2 separate regions of the Homo sapiens genome follow, and region 1 is linked to region 2. Evidence: fine-mapped expression QTL. A gene starts in region 2. The other region holds a variant in brackets. All regions are shown on one strand. Distances are from middle to middle. Region 1 has its middle 23 kb from the start of LINC02793. Region 2 holds the start of LINC02793 (long intergenic non-protein coding RNA 2793).

Region 1 (2,911 bases), 24 kb after region 2:
CCCCACCACAGAGGCCACTGTCTTTCCTGCCTCTTTCACCCTCAGTGCACAAGCCAGCCCCTGAGGCCCTCCTGCAGCAGCCAGGCCCCCACATCGAAACTGCCCTAAAGGACCTGAAATTGGGACCTGGGGGTCAGCCCAATGTCACAACACCTTCATCAACAACAATAAAACCTACCACCTGGCCAGGCCCGGTGGCTCATGCCTGTAATCCCAGCACTTTGGGAGGCCGAGGTGGGCGGATCACCTGAGGTCAGGAGTCAAGACCAGCCTGGCCAAAATTGTGAAACCCCGTCTCTACTAAAAGTACAAAAAATTAGCCATGCATGGTAGTGGGCACCTGTAATCCTAGCTACTCAGGAGGCTGAGGCAGGAGAATCACTTGAACCTGCGAGACGGAGGTTGCAGTGCACCGAGATGTTGCCAATGCACTCCAGCCTGGGCGACAAGAGTGAGAATCTGTCTAAAAAATAAAAATAAAAATAAAATAAAAAATAAAAAAACCTACCACCCATTGAGGAAAGGCTAGCAGGGTACCAGGCAGCTCCCAGGCATTTTACATATGCAGTAAGTTGTTTACCCTCACAGCAATTCTGAAGCTATGCTGATGGTAAGTGGACCCATTTGACAGCTGCATAAACTGAGGTTCTTAGTATGGTGTCCCCCAGAAGCAGCCCTTAGGTGAGGGCTCAGTTCCCTGTGAGTAGTGCATTTCAGAGATGATACCAGGAAATACCGGTAAGGAAGAGGAGAAATGAGACAGGGAAGGGAAGAAAGACATAAAAGGCTGAGTCATTAAACAAATGACCACTGCGGGCAACCAAAGTGGTTGGGGCTTGCTGGGAGATGGCGTGGAATATGCCCCAGGATCATCCCAACTGAGGGGACAGGAGGCTGGGATATTTGTCTGCCTTCAGGCCTTACTGCCCGAGGGCTGCTTCAGCGGATGCATATGTTCCAGGGCTCAAAGCCCTTCAGCTTCGATTTCACTCACACAGAGAGGAAATGCCCTCGGGCAAACAGTCATGGCGTGTGCAGTAAGCAGCACCAAATGGGAAAAAGTGAAGGCTGAGGGGACTTGGGCCAGGCATCTGCAGGGTCTTCTTTCCGAGGCTCAGAGAGGGGTAGTCACTGGTTTAAGGTCACACAGCTTGTTAGTGGCAGAACCTGGATCCAAACCTGATCTGCCAATCCCAAATTTTAATCCCCAGGGTAGGAATGGGACCAGGACTAGGGGTTAGGTCTGTCTAGAGTGGGCTCTG[C/T]AGCTCAGCTTCACTCTCCACCGCACCAAGAAAGCCCTTAAACCTTATCCAGAAAAATGCAAGGAGAGATACCAGCAGGTTCCCATGTTCCCTGGAAATCCTTCATTGCCCGTAGTCTGGCTGCTGGGATGTTGGGAATCTCAGAACAAGGTTATTTTGCCAACGGGAAGGCAGACCCCCTGAAACAAGGAAGAGAGACTGCAAAGCCCAGACCAGAGGGTGAATGAATGAATGAATGAATGAATGAATGAATGAATGAATATAATCAGACAACAGTGTCTCAAAGCTCAGATCCTCTTGGCAGCATCTAGGCCTTTCGCCTCCTCCCACAATTCCACCCACCAAGCCCCACAGAAAGACAGTCCCAAGGTGGCAAACTTGTAACCCACAGGTGTCAAATGAGTCATTTTGCTTTGCATGTCACCATGCTTTTGAATTTTTTTTTGTTTTAGCTTTGTCAACATTTAACAATTGTAAAACTTCACATCACATGAAAACCCCGATTTCCAACTTTGCTGGAAAAAGCAGAAGCTCTGGTGGAATAAAGCCCACCTTCCTGCTGGGTGGCAGCCCCCCCTCCCTGGGATCAGACAAGGACTCTCCCTCTTGCCTTCCTGACACTGAAGCCAACGTCAGTTGCCACATTGTCACTTGCACTATGGTTTTAATGTCACCGACATGGCCCCTGGAAGCACGGAAGTCTGAGAGGCCTGGAGCTGGAAACCTGGAGCCCTGCGTTCTGACTTGCTCTGTGACCTCAAGCAAGTCCCTTCCCCTCTCTGTGCCTCATCACTTCCTTTATGAACTGAAGGGCCAGACAAGTGATCTAAGAGCCCTTCTTGCCCACAGTGTCCCAAAATCAATAAAGAGGGCTGGGGAGTTGAGCAGACCTTCCTTGGTTGAAGGCCTCTGTCCAGGCATGGGGGGCACTGCTGCAAAGAGACTGCATCCTCCCGACTCCCCCAAACTCAAAGTGCATCCAGGTGCTCCTGAGGGTCTGCTGGGCACTTGCTGCCCCTCCACACCACTCATGAGCTCCACTGAACCTGTCCCCAGCAGCGGGTATGCCCCTCAGATAGATGACTTGCTCTTCTTATGTTCCATGGGCACATGTAATGGGTGGGCAGCAGGCGGAAGAGCAGGACACAATCTCTGTGCTCATAGGCCGTGAGCGGCAGAGAACACCAAGCAGCAGCTGCAGGCAAAAGAAAGCCACTCCCCACAGTGCAACTCTGATCTCTCCGCCACGGCATGGATACCCACCCCTGGCTGCTGCAGGCCGACCCCTGAGAAGCCACTGGAAAAGAGTGCAGGGCCTGGGCCGGGCACAGGTGCCTGTCCAGAGCACAGATTCAGAGTCTGAGCAAATTCAACCCAAATGCTTCCGGTGCCTCCTCCGTGCCTGGCAGTGGGCTCAAGTCCCACCAGTCACTTCCTAAATATGAACTAACCATATCATGATCTGTGTCGTGATTGCTGCAGCTGCGGCGGGAGCTCTCGGGAGAGACCTGGCAAGCCCTATCTGCCAGCCTCCACCGCCTCCTTCACGGAATTGCCTCCTTCTTGCTGGAGCTGTTGTGAGAACCAGATGAGAACAACAGCCAGCATGCCTGGAGAGCTTTTCTGCACCCAGCACGGTTTGGGCTCTT
Region 2 (2,911 bases):
GGAGTCAGTGGGTACCCCGGCAGGAGTCAGTGTATGGTTTGGCTGAGGGATCAGTCTGTGACAAGGGACAGCCGTCGGTTTATGTTCAAATCAGGACTTCATCCATCACCAGGGTCAAAGAGCAAATAGGCCCAAGTCAGGACTCAAACATGGCCAGCGTCAGAAGTGTGTGTCTGCGGAGTGAAGCCTGCCACCAGCGTTGCATCAGGCCAAAATCTGACCTCAGAGCCAGGTGTGGCCAAATCAGGAGATGCTGTAACCACTGAGCTGCCAGCCCTGTCAAGCAGGATGCTGGGCAGAGGGGACACATCAGTTCCCTCCATCTCCCATGCCAGACCTGGCAAGTCTGGGCAACCCAACCCAAAGCCTCCCCACTGTTCCAACAGCCTGGGGGACTTAGCTGATCTAACATCCACCCATTCCCATTTAACAGATGGAAAAACTGAGCCCAGAGTGGGGCCAGGACATACCCAACATCATAGCGCAGATGAAGACACAGCCAGGACCAGAACTCAAATCTCCTACACCAGTGGGCTTCCCCCCTGAGCCTGAACATGGAGTCACCACTGGCTCAGTGATTACTGAGTGGAAAGGGATTCGAGACGGCAGAGCACTGTGCAGAGATAGCTGGGCATGAGGGGAGAGAATGCAAGCCTCAGCTGGGAATCGGGACTCTTGGATTCTCATCTTCTCAGATTGACTTAATTCACCACTTCAGAGAGGTCTGTGCGTTCACTTGTTCATTGATTCATTTATTCAACAAATGTCTTCTTAGGTAACCTCTCTGGACCTCAGTCTCCTGATCTGTAAATGGGCAGAATGCCTTTCCCAGGATGGTTGTGGAAACAAATGAGAAAACAAATGGGCAACTTCTGGTGACTGCGCACAGGTGCATGCGTGGTTGCAGCAGATGGCAGTGCCGCCCGCGTGCCTTGGTTATTCCTGTGGCTCATGCCCATGGGAAAGCTTCCAACCACAGCACCTGCAACTCCCCCTGCCCCACAACAATGTTCTCTGGTCAGTGGTTGGGGGCAAGCCAGAGTCCTGGGAGTTAGCACACACCTAGGAGTGACCCTCAAGCAATGTTGGAACAGAGCCGAGGAATACACACTCAGCTCCCTCCCCGCTCAGCTGGGGTCACTCAGGTGTGTTCTACGCTGTCTTCCCAGGGTCCCCAGTGGGATGGAGCCCCGGTTGCCCACAGCTATAACTTGCTGGCTAATGCATATTCCTCCCTGGTTTCTTCCCCACCCCCTTACAGGTACTCCTTGGGATCATAAATGAACTACCTGCAACTCACATCCTAGTGTGAGTTGCAGGGTCTGCTTTCAGATCAGCCCAAACTCAGGTATGAACACATCGCATGTCATCTCATCTCACCTTCACAACACCCCTGGGAGGTGGGCCTGCTGCCCCACTCTACAGAAACAAATGCTCAGAAAGCTTAAGGTCATTGTCAAGAATATGGCAGATCTGGAATTTCTCCCCAGGACTGTCTGTCTCCAGAGCCAACACTCAACTATCACGTTATGCATCATCCCACCTCACCCCCAGGGACCTCCCTCATAATGGAAGCAGCAGCAAAGACTTCATAATGAACAGCACCAGGTAAGTGCTTGTGGAGATGAGAGAACTGCAACATTGCCTGTTGTCCTGCAGGCAGTAGTCCCGCAGCAAGCCAGCATGCTTTCCTGGGGACATGATACCTGAGCTGGGCGTTTAAGGATGCACTGGAGTTGTCCAGGTGGTGAATAAGAGAATGCACTCCAGGCAGAAGGAAGAGCAGGTGCAAAGGCTTAGAGACACGAAAGAGGGTGTTGTATTTAAGGAATGCCGGAAAGCAATGAAGGTGTGTGGGGTGTGATGCCTTCAGGAGAGGGTGGGAACCTTTGCTCTAGAAGTAGGCCTGCATTGCCCCTGGTGGGCTGGGCACCACCCTGCTCAGAAGGCTTCAATCAGGCACAGGTGTGGTCAGATGTGTGGCTCTGGTGGCAGTGTGGAGCAGATCATGCTTGATACATAGTATATGCTCAATACAGATGTAGTCTTAACTATTAATTTTTTATTTTATTATTTCAATTTTGTATCTAGTTTGTTTTTGTTTTTGTTTTAAGACTTCTGTACCCCCAATGTCATGAATAATTACTTTCTTCTAAAAATTTTAAATTTTGCTCTTTCCCATTCAGGGCTTTGGGTCATCTGAAATGTACGTTATGTTTGGTGTGAGGTAGGAATAGCATTTTATCTCTTCTGTGTGAAGAGCCAGTTAGCCTAGCACCATTTCTTTATTAAATAGGTTGCTCTGTAAATGCTGACGTCTTCCACGTTCGAAGTGCCCATTTATAAGTGGGTGCGTTCAGAGGTTCTCTCTTCCATTTTTTGAACATCCTCCTTGAATCACTACACTTTATAATAAGCCATCGTCTCTAAAAAGACAAGGCTTTCTTAATATTCTTCTTCAAATTTGAGTTGGTGTATTAGTGCTACGGGATCTTTGGGGTGTCACTTTTCTGGCCGGAAACCTCTGTGTGGCTGCTGCAGTGGGGCAGGCAGCTCCAGGTGCCAGCACCAGTGCCAGCTTTCTGTGAGTCTGTGGTTGGACCAGGTGCATTGCAAGCAGCATCCACAGCTGGCACTGGGAACATAGTGGCACCTGGAAGCTTGGAGATGCCAGGAACCACAGGGACCCAAGGAGGGAGTCATAGGTCTGGCTCAGGGAGCACCCAGGCCTGAGCTCCCTGAAGGGCTGCAGCTCCTCTCTCCTCTTTGCCTGTGGCATGGCGAGCAAGGGACATATCTCAGCCCTGTTTGTGTTACAGCTCTTTAGCCTTGCCATTCATCAGGTCCTGAGTTCTTGTCCTGCAATCCAGAATAATGAAGTATGCAGACAAGTGGAGGGTGAGCAAAAGGA

Evidence for each region. PIP is the estimated chance that this variant, and not a neighbour inherited with it, causes the effect.
Region 1: its variant is the best candidate, but not a certain one, in a credible set for the expression of LINC02793 in lymphoblastoid cells (GENCORD, PIP 0.50).

The regions. Positions count from the first base shown.
Region 1 is chr1:25,063,074-25,065,984 of GRCh38, forward strand. No RefSeq gene overlaps it. Among named protein-coding and RNA genes, the nearest start is that of LINC02793, 23 kb to the left of the region's middle. The variant C/T (reference allele first, on the strand shown) is at 1,263.
Region 2 is chr1:25,039,530-25,042,440 of GRCh38, forward strand. LINC02793 (long intergenic non-protein coding RNA 2793) reads left to right here and starts at 1,638. Exons shown (of 3, transcript XR_947090.3): 1 at 1,638-1,849.